2 linked regions of the Homo sapiens genome follow. The protein of the gene in region 1 purifies or fractionates together with the protein of each later gene. This does not show direct contact. Each region holds a gene or a part of one and is shown on either strand. Other genes may lie near its edges.

Region 1 (7,534 bases):
AATCTCAGCTCACTGCAAACTCCACCTCCCAAATTCAGGCAATACTGCTGCCTCAGCCTCCTGAGTAGCTGGGACTACAGGCGTGTGCCACTATGCCCGGCTAATTTTTTTTTTTTTTTTTTTTTTTGAGACGGAGTCTCACTCTGTCACCCAGGCTGGAGTGTAGTGGCATGATCTTGGCTCACTGCAAGCTCCAGTGCTGGGATTACAGGAGGGAGCCACTGCACCCAGCCAAGACTGATAAGGTTTCTCATGCAGATTCAAATCCAGGAGAAAACTTTCCCAAGGAGCAGCAAAGAGGAATTTTAGATACAAAATATTCCATACCCTTTAGGGTGATGAAAATGTTCTAAAGTTAGATTGTGGCAATGGTTGGACAACTTGGTAAATAAACTAAAAATTCGTTGAATTATATACATGGAAAGTTTTGAGACTTCCAGACTGCTTTTTGTTGCTGTTGTTCTCTTGACCCTAACTAATGGAATTCTAGCTCTGATTCTTGAAAACTCGAGGGCTGGAACTTCTGGGGAGAGAAACCTCAGCCTGATCAGGAGGAAATGCTCCCCTTCCAGGGGGCCAGTGCTGCTGACCAAGGAGACTCAAAAGACACCTGGACTTCAGGTGTCCCAGGATGTTTGACTGCTAAAAATCCATAATTCTGTGAGCTTTCTTTCTTAAAATAGGTAGCTCTGGCCATACATTTTTATTTTATTTTTATTTTTAGATGGAGTCTCACTCTGTCACCCAGGTTGGAGTGCAGTGGTACGATCTCGGCTCACTGCAAGCTCCGCCTCCCAGGTTCAAGCAATTCTCCTGCCTCAGCCTCCCGAGTTGCTGGGACTACAGGCGCCCGCCACCATGCCCAGCTAATTTTTTGTATTTTTAGTAGAGATGGGGTTTCACCGTGTTAGCCAGGCTGCTGTCGATCTCCTGACCTTGTGATCCGCCCGCCTCGGCCTCCCCAAGTGCTGGGATTACAGGCATGAGCCACCGTGCCCGGCCCTGGCCATACATTTTAAATTGACATAACTGTTTTCTGAAATGCATAGGGACCCATGAGTTTTCTTTGCCAAGGCAGGAAAAAATCATGGGTACTTTCTTCTTCTCCCTCATGCACGGAAGAAAAAAAAAAAAAACCCATGAGTCTGGATCAAAGGGTTTGAGAGTTCACTCTCATTTTGGCCGGGCACGGTGGCTCACTCCTGTAATCCTAGCACTTTGCGAGGCCGAGGCGGGTGGATCACTTGAGGTCAGGAGTTCGAGACCAGCCTGGCCAATATGGCGAAACCCCGTCTCTAGTAAAAATACAAAAAAATTAGCCGGGTGTGGTGGCACGTGCCTGTAATCCCAGCTACTCGGGAGGCTGAGGCAGGAGAATCGCTTGAACCCAGGAGGTGGAGGTTGCAGTGAGCCGAGATTGCACCATTGCGCTCCGGCCTGGGCAACAAGAGCAAAACTCCACCTCAAAAAAAAAAACAAAAAATAAAAAATAAAAAGACAGTTCACCCTTATTTGAATGAATGTGCTCATGTTCCCCTCCCTTACAGATGAGGAAACTGAGGCTCAGGTAGGTTAACTCACTATATCAGGTCATACGAGTTGACATGTGGCTTTGACCCAGGATTTGGACTCAGCCCTCCTGACTGCAGTCTTTGCTGTTAACCACTGGGCTGTGCATGACATCACTTAACCACACACACACACAAAACAGAAAACTCCCAATATGCAGAAACAGAGAAATGGAGCGATTTGCCCAAGGTCACACAGCCGGTAAATGGCAAGCCAGGGGGATTTGAACACTTTCTTTTGGCACCCTAACCCTTCACCTGTCCTGCTGCCGAGCCTCCTCCCCAGCCCACCTGGCTGACCCCACCCCCGGGCTCACCTGCGCTCTTGCCCGAAGAGGCGCTCCACCTCTGCACGGCCAGGGCTGTGGGTGCGGCCCCCGCTGCTGCACTGCGCCTGGGGCCCTGGCTGTCTCTGGGCCAGCCTCCTGGGTGGGGGCAGGTCGGCCAGCACAGTGTACTCCTCCCGCTCCAAGTTGTGCCTGGTCTCCCCGGGAGGCGCTGAGCCCCGGGAGCCCCCAGAGCTGCCCGGTGAAGGTGAGGGTGCCAGGAACGCTAGGTCACTGGGTGGGTGGCGGGGTGGGGAGGAGGCTCGGGGTGCATCCCGGTGCCCGATGCACACTTGGGGGATCAGCACTGGGGAGCCATGCAGAGAGTCAGTGGAGGGGGCCAGGCTCTCCATACTAGTTCCAGGGGGATCCTGGAAGAAGAGGGATGGCTCAGGAGCCTGGCGTGGTGGGGATGAGAAGGAGGGTGCATCCCGGTGCCCAATGCACACAGGGGTGGGGATGTGGGGGCACTCGTGCAGAGAGTCCATGGAAGGGACAAGGCTCTCTGTGCTGGCCCTGGGGAGGTCCTGGAATAAGAGGGAAGGCTCTGGGGCCTGGCGTGGTGGGGAGGAGGCCCGGGGTGCATCTCGGTACCCAATACACACAGGTGCAGGGAGCTGAAGGGGCTCGTGTTGGGGGGACTGACACTGATGCTCGGCATCTGATGTGTCTGGGAGGAAGGGGAAGGGGTCAAATTGGGTGTGGCGGGGGGGCGAGGACGCCCGGGGGGCATCTCGGTGTCCAATGCACACAGCAGGTGGTATATAGGGAGGCTCGTGGTGGGGCGGTTCACTCTCAGGGGCGCGGGGCTCTGGGAAGAAGGGGAAGGGGTCGTGCTGCAAATAGCGAGGGGGCGAAGAGGCTCGAGGGGCATCCCGGTGCCCAATGCACACAGCACATGGAGGCTGGGAGGGCTCAGGAGAGGTCAGGGGAGCCCCATAGGCAGCGGGGTACACAGGTGAGGAAGTTCGGGAGGTGCTCTGGTGGCCTGGGTTATGGGAGGAAGAGGTGGCCCGGGATGGCAAGTTGTACTGGGTGGGGCCAAAGGAGGACTGGGGTGGGTCATGCTGGGCTGGCCTGCTGGGAGAGGATGTCTGAGGCCTGTCACCTTGGGTTGGCCGGAGGGCGATGGATGCCCAGGGAACCTCGCTTTGCTTGGAGCGAGATGGGGAAGAGGTTCGGGGACCATCACTCTGAGTTGGCCGGAGGGGAAACGAGGCCCAGGGGATGTCTTTGTTAGTACGATGGGGAGATGAATTCCTGGGATTGTTCCATTGAGTGGAGCGGTGGGGAGATGATGGTCTCAGATTCTCCTTTTGGGTGCAGCATTGAGATGAGGAGGTTCCAGGGTTGTCTCGTTGAAAGGAAAAGGACTGTGTGCGGTCCCGCTGTGTACAAGTGGGTCTGAGGTTATCTCGTTTGGTACAAGAGGTTTTAGGGTTGTCTTGTTGGGTAGAAGATGATCTGGGGATGTTCTGTTGAATACAAGTTCTGGGGTTGTCCTGTTGGGTGGCTCTGATGGGAGAGGAGGCTCTGAGATTGTCCCGCTGGGCACAGGATGTTCTGGGGTTGTCTCGTGTGGCTCTATTGGGAGAGGAGGTCCTGGGATTGTCCTGTCGGGTACAGGATGTTCTGAGGTTCTCTTGTTGGATGGTTCTGTTAGGAGAGGAGGCTCTGGGATTGTCCCGCTGGGCACAGGATGTTCTGGGGTTGTCTCGCTGGATGGTTCTGTTGCGAGAGGAGGCTCTGGGATTGTCCCGTCGGGCACAGGATGTTCTGGGGTTCTCTTGTTGGGTGGTTCTGTTAGGAGAGGAGGCTCTGGGATCGTCCCGTTGGGCACAGGATGTTCTGGGGTTCTCTTGTTGGATGGTTCTGCTGGGAGAGGAGGCTCTGGGATTGTCCCGTAGGGCACAGGATGTTCTGGGGTTCTCTTGTTGGATGGTTCTGTTAGGAGAGGAGGCTCTGGGATCGTCCCGTCGGGCACAGGATGTTCTGGGGCTGTCTTGTTGGGTGGTTCTGTTGGGAGAGGAGGCTCTGGGATTGTCCCGCTGGGCACAGGATGTTCTGGGGTTATCTCGTGTGGCTCTATTGGGAGAGGAGGTTCTGGAGGCTCTGGGATTGTCCCGCTGGGCACAGGATGTTGTGGGGTTGTCTCGTGTAGCTCTATTGGGAGAGGAGGCTCTGGGATTGTCCCGCTGGGCACAGGATGTTCTGGGGTTGTCTCGTGTGGCTCTATTGGGAGAGGAGGTTCTGGAGGCTCTGGGATTGTCCCGCTGGGCACAGGATGTTGTGGGGTTGTCTCGTGCAGCTCTATTGGGAGAGGAGGCTCTGGGATTGTCCCGCTGGGCGCAGGATGTTCTGGGGTTGTCTCGTGTGGCTCTATTGGGAGAGGAGGTTCTGGAGGCTCTGGGATTGTCCCGCTGGGCACAGGATGTTGTGGGGTTGTCTCGTGTAGCTCTACTGGGAGAGGAGGCTCTGGGATTGTCCCGCTGGGCACAGGATGTTCTGGGGTTGTCTCGTGTGGCTCTATTGGGAGAGGAGGTTCTGGAGGCTCTGGGATTGTCCCGCTGGGCACAGGATGTTGTGGGGTTGTCTCGTGTAGCTCTACTGGGAGAGGAGGCTCTGGGATTGTCCCGCTGGGCGCAGGATGTTCTGGGGTTGTCTCGTGTGGCTCTATTGGGAGAGGAGGTTCTGGAGGCTTTGGGATTGTCCCGCTGGGCACAGGATGTTCTGGAATTCTCTCGTTGAGTGGTTCTGTTGGGAGAGGAGGCTCTGGGATCGTCCTGCTGGACACAGGGTGTCCTGGGGTTTTCCCGCTGGGGAGTACAAGTAGGAAAAGAAGTTTGGGGGTTGTCCTGCTGGGTAGAAGAGGTTCTGGGGTTATCCAGTTGGGTGCTTCGTGAGGGAGAGGAAGCTCTGGGGGTGTTCCACTGTGTAGATGAGGCCCTGGGGGTGTCCTCTTGGGTGGATGAGGCCCTAGGGGTGTCCTCTTGGGTGGATGAGGCCCTGGAGGTTTCCTGTTGGGTGGATGAGGCCCTGGAGATTTCCTGTTGGGTGGATGAGGCCCTGGAGGTGTCCCTTTGGGTGATTCGATGGGGAGAGGAGGCTCTGGGGATTTCACGTGTAGAGGCAGCCTGAGCAGTGTCCCTTTGGGCAGGAGAAGCCTGAGACGTGGTGCTTCGAGGTCCACTGTGTGGTGTCATGGAGGAAGCCTGGGTCAGTGTTGACCGGTGCCGCTCCAGGGACAACCCGCTTTCTCCCCGGAGCCTTGCCCAGTGCTGTCCTGCGCTCCGGCCCCCACCGCCGGTGTCTGGAGAGAGAAGAGAGGGGCTCAAGGTAAGGGGAGAGGTCCAGGCAGCTCTCATATTCTACCTTTCTTTGTCCCTTAGGACCAGTGATTAGGGCAAACCCCACACCCTCCTCCTACAGGTCTCACTGTCTGTACCAAGTGACTCCACCTCTCTGACCAAGGCTGATTAGACAAGGGCTTGGATGCCTCTCTCAAGCTGAGGTCAAGAATTTGAAATTGAGACCCTGACTCACTCAAGAGATGGGTTCAAGAACTGGAAGGCCACAGGGTCTGGGGATCCACGGACAAGACAGAGAAGAAGCAAATTTGTGGAGAGAAGTGTTGACAATGGCCTGTGTGACCCCAGGGAGGGAGAGGTGGGCCCAACAGCAGCCACCTGACAGTCTTCCCTTCCCAGTTCTATTTCCTTCAATCAGAATCCAAGGAATTCCCCCCATTTCTTGTTTTGTTTTGTTTTTGAGTCAGAGTCTCGCTCTGTCGCCCAGGCTGGAGTGCAGTGGCGTGATCTCGGCTCATGGCAACCTCCGCCTCCCAGGTTCAAGCCATTCTCCTGCCTCAGCCTCCCGAGTAGCTGGGATTACAGGCATGCGCCACCATGCCCAGCTAATTTTTGTATTTTTAGTAGAGACGGGGTTTCACCATGTTGGCCAGGCTGGTCTCGAACTCCTGACCTCAGGTGATCCGCTCACCTCGGCCTCCCAAAGTGCTGGGATTACAGGCGTGAGCCACCATGCCCGACCTTTTTTTTTTTTTTTTTGAGACAGAGTCTCGTTCTGTCACCCAGGCTAGAGTGCAATGACGCGATCTCGGCTCACCGCAACCTAAGCCTCCTGGGTTCAAATGATTCTCCTGCCTCAGCCTCCCAAGTAGTTGGGATTACAGGCATGCACCACTATGCCCAGCTCATTTTTGTGTTTTTAGTAGAGACAGGTTCTAATGAGCCTGTTTCCTGTGCGACAGCTCTAGAAAGCCCCTGTTTTTTTGTATCCAAATGTTCCTACCCTGAGGCTTCTCCTAGGGCTGCCATGAGGATAGGAAAGGTGCAGGGATGGACAACCTTTTATAAACTGGTAGCTGGGAGTTTGCCAGAAATGCAGAATCTCAGGTCCCAGCCCAGATGCACTGCTTCTGGATCTGCATTTAACAAAACTGTCTGGTGATTTGTACACCTTATAGTTTCAGAAGCACTGGCCTAAAGGATTAATGTAACTGTCCTCAGTAGTGACCCTCTTTGCAACTCCTAGCCTCATGACAGAGTTGCCATGACCTTGGTGTGTCACCCTCCACCCCGCTCAATCCCTCGGTCACCAAGCAGGTGTTGAGCACCCCTATGTACATGTCCCTTGGCTACTGCTTTAGGTGAAGAGTAAAGGGTATCATGGCCTCATCTTAAAGGAGCCACAACTATGGGTGTGGTGGCTTACACCTGTAATCCCAGCACTTTGAGAGGCCAAGGTGGGAGGATCACTCGAGCTCAGGAGTTCCAGACCAGCCTAGGCAACATGGCGAGACCCTGTCTCTACTACAAGTTTTTTAAAACTTAGCAGGGCCTGGTGGTACGTGCCTGTAGTCCCAGCTACCTAGGAGGCTGAGGCCGGAGGAGTGCCTGAGCCCAGGAGGTGGAGGTTGCAGTGAGCCAAGAATGTGCCATTGCCCTCCAGCATGGGCAACAGAGCAAGACATTGTCTTAAAACAAAAAACGAAACAAAAAAGTAGCCACAGTTGCCTTCATGCAGATCCCCTCCCTTCACGCCTTCTTAAGATCCCCTGTCCTCTCCCTTTGCAGCCACTGCCTCGTCCAGCCTCTCTGGGCTGGTGTTGGTGAAAGTCTGAGTTCCCAGCACCTAGCAGGGAATTCAAAATTTGCAAGGTTGCCAGGCACGGTGGCTCACGCCTGTAATGCTAACACTTTGGGAGGCCAAGGCGGGTGGATCATCTGAGGTCAGGAGTTCGAGACCAGCCTGGCCAACATGGTGAAACCAGTCTCTACTAAAAATACAAAAATTAGCTGGATGCAGCCGGGAGCAGTGGCTGATGCCTGTAATCCCAGCACTTTGGGAGGCCGAGGCGGGCGGATCACAAGGTCAGGAGATCGATACCAGCCCTGCTAACACGGTGAAACCCCATCTCTACTAAAAATACAAAAAAAAAAAAAAAAAATTAGCCGGATGCAGTAGTGCATGCCTGTAATCCCAGCTACTCGGGAGGCAGAGGCTGGAGAATTGCTTGAACCCGGGAGGTGGAGGTTGCAGTGAGCTGAGATCTGGCCACTGCACTCCAGCCTGGGTGACAGAGCGAGACTCTGTCTCAGAAAACAAAAAACAAAAAAA
Region 2 (8,512 bases), on another chromosome or scaffold:
TACAAACTGTTATAGTAAAAAGAAATAAAAATAAAAATGAAAATGGAAATAGAGTGTCACTCAGCAGAAAAAGTGTAACAGTGAAAAACTAGGCCAGGCACAGTGGCTCATGCACTGTGGAAGGCTGAGGTAGAAGGCTCACTTGAGGCTGAGAGTTCAAGGCCAGCCTGAGCAACATAGTAAGACCCTGTCTCTACAAAAATGAAAAAAATTAGCCAGGCATGGTGGCATGTGCCTGTGGTCCCAGCCACTTTGGAGGATGAGGCAGGAGGACTGCTTGAGCCCAGGAGATTGAGGCTGTAGTGAGCAGTGATCACGATACTGCACTCCAGCCTGGGTGACAGAGCGAGACCGCAGCTCAAACAAAAAACAGTGAAAAACCAGAAACCCTAACTTACTCTTGGCAAGGGAGTAAATATACTATACTTTTTTCATACACTGGGATTCTCTGTAACAGCTAAAGTGAATAAAGATCTATTAACACATGTATCTCAAAAACATAGTAAGTTAAAAATGCAAGCTATACATAGGTAGAATTATGCCATTTATGTAAAATGTTAAACACAAACTCACATGTATTTTTTTGTGGATACAGTGTAGTTCCAAACATGCTTGAGAACTGTGTGCGCTAACTTCACATTAGAGGTTACCTGAGGATGGAGGCAAAGGAGTAGGAATAGATCAAATATTTAAGTTATAGTTTATTTTTCCGGGGGGGGAGAGGTATGGATCAAATATGAAAATATTAGCAACTATTAAACCTAGGAAGTAGAAGACAAAATGGCTTACTATACTCTGTTTTTATGTATGTTAGAAATATTTCATACTTATTTATTTATTTATTTATTTGAGACAGAGTCTTGCTCTGTCGCCAGGTTGGAGTGCAGTGGCGCAATCCCAGCTCACTGCAACCTCCACCTCCCGGGTTCAAGCGATTCTCCTGCCTCAGCCTCTCAAGTAGCTGGGATTACAAGTGCGTGCCACCACGCCCAGCTAATTTTTATTTTTTGTATTTTTAGTAGAGACGGGGTTTCACTGTGTTGGCCAGGATGGTCTCGATCTCCTGACCTCATGATCCGCCTGCCTCGGCCTCCCAAAGTGCTGGGATTACAGGCATAAGCACCATGCCTGGCCCTTATTTTTATTTTTAAAGGATGAAAAAAAAGGAAAGAAGGAAGGGAGGGAGGGGGTGGAGGAAGGAGAGGCAAAAGTTGTCCACTGCATTCTATTAATTCCAAGGCCCAGTTGTTCTTAACCTCCAAATCTGCTTCTTCACTTTTAAAGCCTAGGTGATAGTACGTGTACCTGCCTAGAACATGCTTTGAAAACTAGCAGACTGGAGAGAGAATTTCACTGTCAGGTTCACTACTGGTGGGCGGGACACTACATCATTCCCCTACGGAATCCCTAGGGGGCTCAGCATCCTTTCTGTCTCTTCAATTCAGATAACAGTAATAAGATTTTCCAGCAGGGTTATAATCACACCACCACCACCACCATCTCCAAAAAGCCATAAAACAATAAATTCATTACTGAAGCATCTCAGTGAATGGAGATGAAAACTGTGCAACAGCCCAGCACGGGATAGCTCTCCCAATCTCTGTTAGACAAGCACTGGCTAAAATATAAGAACTGGATCAATCTCCTCACATAAAATCAACTGTCTTACAAACCCAAGGGGGAAAAAAATCACACTTGTTAGGCATCATTAAGAAAAGATTATCAGATTATATACATCAGTAATAAAATTCCGAGCCACAGGGCGAACAGGGACCTGCAGGCTGGGGACAGAGCAGCCAAAATCCAGCCTCCCTGTGATTCCCGACCTCTTCTCCAACTCTGTGCAAAGCCCGAGGAGGTGAGACTCTCTTCGCTAAGGCGAGCTTCGGCTATGTCCTAGTGATGGACAGTTCCTCTCTGCCAGGCCCCTGCAGCCTTGAGACCACATTCCCCAGAGATCCGGCAACGTTTCCCCATCCCAGGCAGCTGGGCATTCTCCTCTCCCGGAAGGAAGACGGAATCCCACCCCGATCATGCGTGAGCTGCGGCGAAGAGAAGCCGCTGGTCCCGAGGCGAGGGGCCTCGAGTCCGCAGATTCCCCTCAACATTTCTGGGAGTAAAGTTGGGCTTAGCTGGGCTCCTGGCAAATAAAGAGGAGCCTGGAAAGACAGCCATGCTCAGGCCCCCGTGAGGCCACTTCGGACCCCTCCACGCTGTGCTGGGCTGCATCTGCCTTAATTCCCCGTCTGTTGCTTCTCCAGGCTCTGAGCCCCCTCCACAAAAGGGGGATGCGAAACTCAAAGGAGTTAGGATGTCAACCCTGCAAACCGCAGAAACTAAACCGACACCAACCTGCCCAAGAAGGCAGCGAAGGTGGTTGAGGACGACACCCCACCCCCCACCCCCCACCAGGCAGGGGTCGCGGGAGATGGCGGGCGCCTTTCTGGTGGCTCCACGTCCTCCTTACTCCCGAAGTCCCGGCGGCCCCGAGTCTGCCCCAACTCCAGCATCCGTTCTCCCCGAGCTGCGGCGGGGAAAACAAGGTAGGGGGCAGGGGCAGGCCCAGAGGGGTCTCGCCCCCGCCCTTGGGCCGGCCGAGGGGCTCCCTGGAGTCAGAGGAGGAACAATAGCGGACCCCGCGTCCTGGGAGCCACCCGGAGTCTCCCGCTCGCACCTCCCTCCCCACCTCCTCCAAGTTCAGCCGGGAGGCGGATTGGGCTCAGCAGCACCGACGCGGGGGCAGCGAGGCGCCGCGCGGGGCGAAACAGGTGGGACCCGGCGCAGACTCCAGGGTGCATCTCCGGGTCTGCTCATTCATTCCCACCCGCGCTCCCTCCGCCGCGGCCCCTGCCCCGCGCCCCGCCCCAGCCGGCCTGCGAGTCGCGGAGGACCCGGGAAGAACCCTTCTCCTAACTTGGCCGGGTCTTCCCGCTCTACCCTCATCTCCACCTTCCTCTCCTTCCTCTTGTCCCCAGATCTGCTCTCCGCAGACAGTGGGCTGCCGGCGGTGGACCAGGGAGAGGTGGCGGGACCCCGGCTGCAGCCCGCTCAGCCGCTCCGCCCGGGCGCCGTCCCCAGCGCCTCCCGCGCCCGAGCTCCAGACACAAAGGCGGGGACACGAGCCCGGGACCCCGCGCCGGGAGCCTCCCAACTCCGTGCCGCGCACTCACCCCATCGAGGCGGCGGCGGCGCTCCCCGGACCCAGCTGGCTGCTCCACCCCGCCCGCCGCTTCCCCAGGAAAACGCGGCCGCCGGGCTCGCTTCCTGCTCGGCTTCCTGCGCCGCAGTCCCTCCTCCTCCCCCGCTGCGGGGGTCAGTGGGCGCCGAGCTCCCGGGCTAGGCCGGCGGGGCGGGGGCAGCGGCAGCACCACCACGTGGCCGCCGGGCGCCGGCCCCCGCCGACCTGGATCCAGTGGGAGCGGGAAGGGAGGCGCTAACCATTCCCCTCCCATTCCACCCCTCGCGGCCCCAAATTCCGCGAGTCAGGTGACCCGGCCCCGGGCTCTGGCCGGGACCTGCGGGGGGTGCTCTCCGCCCTCCAGCCCCCGGCGCATCTCCCCGGCCCGCGCGTCCCGGCTGTTCGTGGCTTGCTTTTAGTCTCCAGGGATCGTGGGACCCTTCTCCGCGGATCTGTTTCATCCTCTTAACCTGAAGTTAGTGGAAGCCCCCCACGCTCTGACCCCTGGGTTTAGGACGGATGAGATCCCAGATACTGTTTATTTCTGATTAACTTCCAAAGTCGTTTGTGGTAGTGGCGAGTGTTTCAAAGTCACGGATCCAAGCCCCTTCTGACCAGAATCTAAAAGGTTGTTTTCCAAAATCATTGAACAGAAAGTAAAGTAGAATGTGCTCACGTTCTCCGGACTGAACCAATTGGTTGAAGTGACTGTTTTCTAGCACTCATTGGGTGGCAAGGCAAGACTACCACCGTTCAGTGTTGTTCTGCTCAGGAGTTAGAAAGGAGAAACCTACAGCCTGAACTGACAGGCGAGATTGCGCATGGGAACGCCTTCAAAATAGTGTGTGAGAAGCCACGGGGTACAGGCTCACTGCCCCAGGTCCCCGACAGCTTCTCTCCCTATCCCAGCCCACTAAGGCCCGACCTTTCAATTACGATGGACTCCACCATTAATTCCAAGGATTTCAAAGCTCTCTATCTACCCACTCATCTAATTTGGGCTGGCTTTTCCATGCATTCTAGTCATGCTAACCAGCTGTGACTTCAGTTCTGTTCACCTAAGCTCCTCCCTTCTCCTCGTTAGCTCTGCCTCCTTTGCTCAGGGAAGAAAGCTTTCTAGAATAAATAACGTATTGAGTTCTTTCTGGGATCTACTGTAAGTCAATTGAACTTAAGAGGGAAAAAAGGTCGATTCCAACAAAATTGAAATTCACCCTAACAGCTCAGTTTATAACGTGTCAGCTACATACTAATATTTATATGGCAGATATTACCTGTTCCCTCCCCCCGCCCCATCCCCCTTTCCTTCCTCCCTCTCCCTACTAGGGAAGAGCCTATCTCCCCTTTAACAGTTGAACTTGACAAACAAGCATCAAAAGCCTTGTAACTAGGTGCAGGGTCTTCACTTCCTACAGCAAAAGTTCCTTAGCCAAGTGAGGAACAGCTAAAGCAAGATGTACACTCCTCTTCCTGTCCTTTATCCCTCTCAAACAAAGTCACACTGTAAAAGAAACATGAACTGACCAACATTCTTTTGGTTTAATGCTGGCAATTTCTACAATAGTGTTTCATCGTGATTCTTGTTAATGACATATTGTAGGGTATTTAAGGGGAACATTACTGCCTGTGAGTTTTCTGCTCTATTTTTGCAGGTCAGTCTGGTTCAAGTAGGGGCAGCTGGGAGGATGGGATTTGGAGCATGGTACAGGTAGATGATGCTGTCTTGGAAATTTGACATGTGTGTATTCTGTAGGAACAGTTGACATTTTGAAGGAGTTAAAATATTAGACAACATTAAACAATGATTGTCTAAGGCAGGCACATCTGACTTTGATTCACAGAGGTCCTGTCCCTCTTCTTTTTTCTCTGTCCCAGCCACCTCCAAAGAGCCTACCAGCCTATCACCTCTTAGATTCCCATAGGTGGTTTGTATATGATTCTCCTTAGTTTACACTCCCACCCTCTAAAGTCAGCAAGTCTAACTCTGGATGAGGGATCGTTGTGAAAGTATTCTTATTTTTTTGGGCTGTGCCAAGATCCTTTTCCAGATCCCCACTTTTGAAACTCAAAGCAACTTTGTAGTCTGTAGACTGAGCATGGCAGCTAAGTTCTGCCAACTGCAGGGGGATTAGTGGGGAAGTAAGAGGTTCAATAGCATCTTCTTATTGGTTGTGTTGCCCAGGCGTTTTAGAAATGCTAATTGGGTTCATTGGATACATTGAATACCACCCTTTGATGAGAACTAGGCCCAGGTGAAAGGGGTTGAGTTAAAGAAGCAAAAATAAAATGACCAGCTAACCTGTGTAAAGTAGTAAAACCTTTTGGGAGGAGCAGTATGTTGCATTCCTTTATCCAAATATCAAGGTAACAGCAGTGTAATATGTAGTGCCATGAGCACCAAGAGCAAGGAGACTGGGTTTCCTGACCCATTTCTTTTGCTTACTTGCCATTTGACCTTCACCAAGGGTTTTAACTTCCCCTGTTCCCCCTTTCCTCATTAGTAGAAGGGAACATCAAAGTACATGACCTCCAAGATCTTTCTTTTCTTTTGTTTTCTTTTTTCTCTCTTTCCTTCTTTTCCTTTTTTTCCTTCCTTCCTTCCTTCCTTCCTTTCTCTCTCTCTCTCTGTCTTCTTTCTATCTTTGTCTCACTTTGGTGCCCAGGCAGGAGTGCAGTGGCACAATCATGGCTCACTGCAGCCTCAACCTCCAAGCTGAAGCTTTCCTCCCACCTCAGCCCCCAGGTCCCACCTCACTAGCTGGGACTACAGGTGTGGGCCACCACACCCGGTAATTTTTTTTTTTTTTTTTTTTTTGTACTTTTGGTAGAGACAGGGTTACGCCATGTTGCCCAGACTGGTCTCGAACTCCTGGGCTCAAGCGATCTGCCTGCCTCGGCCTCCCAAAGTGCTGGGATTACAGGCATGTGCCACCATACCCGATCTTTTTCAGTTCTGACATCCTAAACCTATTCTCTTAGTTTGTAGACCCTTCATAAGCAAAACTGCCCTGTCATTTCATGACGAAACATTGTTTTCTGATCACACTAGCAGGTCAGTCTTGTCAAAGCAATACAATTGTAAACTCCAAAGAGTGTTGCCATCCAGGACATCACAAATGAAATTCATTGATTGAGTGGGCTCAATTTTTATTCTTGAGATTAAATGATATCATCCCTTTTTCCTTGCTCATCCTTCATCAATACTGGTTCTTCTTAGATTATGAGTATCTTGATTGCCCAAGTCTGAGGAACCAAAGCTAAGACTTGTTGGGATAACAAGAAACTGCCCCTGCAGGAGGAAGGAGAGATAGATATCACACCACAGCCAAAAAGTCATTCTCCACTTTATTTGGTGTTTGGTCAGGAGCTGACTGTACTTCTGGGTCTAGTTAGAGGCAGCATGATTTAGAGGAATGTGGAGATATTGGACCCAGTCCAGAGAATAGAATAAAAATGCAATAACACAATCAGAAGGTTGGAGGGAGATAATCTACCAGAAAAAGTCCAAATATTCATAGAAAAAACACTTTTTGTATTTTCCTGGGGATGTTTCCAAATAGAAGAAAACTGTAACATGGGAAAATTAATAAAATAACCTTGGCATTCCTTTTCATAATTAGTAAGACCATAGTAATGAAGTAGCCTGCAAAACACTAATTGGCTCATGGTTTTTCCACTTGCCAGGGAGTCAGCAGAGATTTCTCCAAGGGTAAGAGGCTACTACAATATTCTTCTCAGTGAGGTTGGGCACCTGCCGAGGAAACGAGGCTAAGATCTTTGGCAATAAATACATTCCGAAGACCTGCATCAGTGCCCTGCTTGCAGAGTGTGGCAGAGAAGCTAAGCATCTCAAACTCGGCATTACAGACCTGAGAAGGCTGTAAGACTCTCTGGTCCATCATCACACGGGAGGAATATAAATCCTCAGAGCTGTGCTGGGCAGCATGTTAGCTGCTAGCCACACATGGCTGCTGGACACTTGAAATGTTGCTAGTCTGAATTGTGCTGTGCTGTAAATGCAATTCACACCAGATTTCAAAGAGTTAGTATTTTACAAAATGAAAAAAATGTCTCACTAATACTTTTTATATTAGGCATTGAAATAATTTTGGGATATATTGGGTTAAATCTCAACACTAATTTCACCTATTTCTTTTTTACCTTTAGAAATGTGGTTGCTGAAAATTTAAAAGTATACATGGCTTACATATTTCTATTGGTTAGTACTGCTGTAGGAGCTAATATTAGCAGCTAACACATATTTAGCAGCTATTCTATACTAAGTACTTTTCTATGCCATGTATATATTAACTATGATGACTGTCTACTTAATTGTCTAATCTGGGACAATTTTGAGAGTGAAAGAGGATGGGTAACTTCTAAGCCAGCCAGAACACTAGGACTAAAGGCAGAAACTGGAACTGTCCTAAGCAAACTGGGATGTCAGGTCGTCCTAATGTTAGGTCATTTAATCATGACATCAGCCCTGTAGGTATAATTATCCCTTTGGGGCACAAGAGGGAACTGGAGCACAGAGAGATTAAGTAACTTGCCCAAAGCCACTCAGCTAGTGAGTAGCAATGCTGGGATTTAAACGAGGGTAAGCTGACTCCAGAGGCATCATTCTTAACTGCTGTGCAACACTCTCTGCTAAGAGCTAACATAGGATTGAAATTTTAGTAGGTGGGAGATTTTTCTTAATCCTCACAGCAACTTGGATGTAGTATTACCCTGTTTTCACAGGTGCAGAAACTGAGTTTCAAGTAGATCCAGCAACTTGCCCAAGTCGTAAAACCAGAAAGAGTGGAGCCGAGAATCAAAGCTTGGATGCCTGACCAGAGTGGACCTTTGAAACACTCCTCTGTATATTGTCTTCAGGCTGCCTGTATTTACAAACTCTGATATTGACCTCATTACTTCTCCCCGTTCTGCAGGCAGAAGACTGCTATGAGAGCACTTAGGACCCAAGCGACATCAGCCTTGGAACAGGCAAATAAAAATGGAAAGCTAATCTTGGTGGCCTTCTCTTCTTCAAAAGGACATTTTTAAGATCCAAATAGCCATCAGTATGGCCAAGTTGGTTGTTCGGCTATGCATATCAGAAATTCCATAAAATATTCTCCAATTACGGTGCTGGAGGAGGGTATTATGAGGAGTTCATGAACATCAAGAAGGCAGTTAATGGGTTATCAGAAGACTAAGAGAAGTGGTTTCCACAAAGCACAGAGTCAGAAGCAATAATGTGGTGTTTGGAGCCACAAGTACACCAGGTGCAGCTTTTCTTGCTTCCTCTACAGTGGATCACAATCTTGGCAGCCCATTTAGAATCACCTG

The links. The genes of interacting proteins can lie anywhere in the genome.
Region 2: the proteins of TRIOBP (region 1) and RAI14 purify together in Homo sapiens (affinity purification with mass spectrometry; 2 studies listed by BioGRID and IntAct, with this or other methods). This does not show direct contact.

What each region holds. Positions count from the first base shown.
Region 1 is NC_000022.11:37,720,855-37,728,388, reverse strand, and holds part of TRIOBP (TRIO and F-actin-binding protein), read right to left. Parts: intron 5,205-7,534; coding exon 1,886-5,204; intron 1-1,885.
Region 2 is NC_000005.10:34,651,134-34,659,645, reverse strand, and holds the start of RAI14 (ankycorbin), read right to left. Parts: upstream 3,319-8,512; 5' UTR 3,171-3,318; intron 3,156-3,170; exon of another isoform or gene 2,950-3,155; intron 2,393-2,949; exon of another isoform or gene 574-2,392; intron 1-573. UniProt on the Homo sapiens protein: Plays a role in actin regulation at the ectoplasmic specialization, a type of cell junction specific to testis. Important for establishment of sperm polarity and normal spermatid adhesion.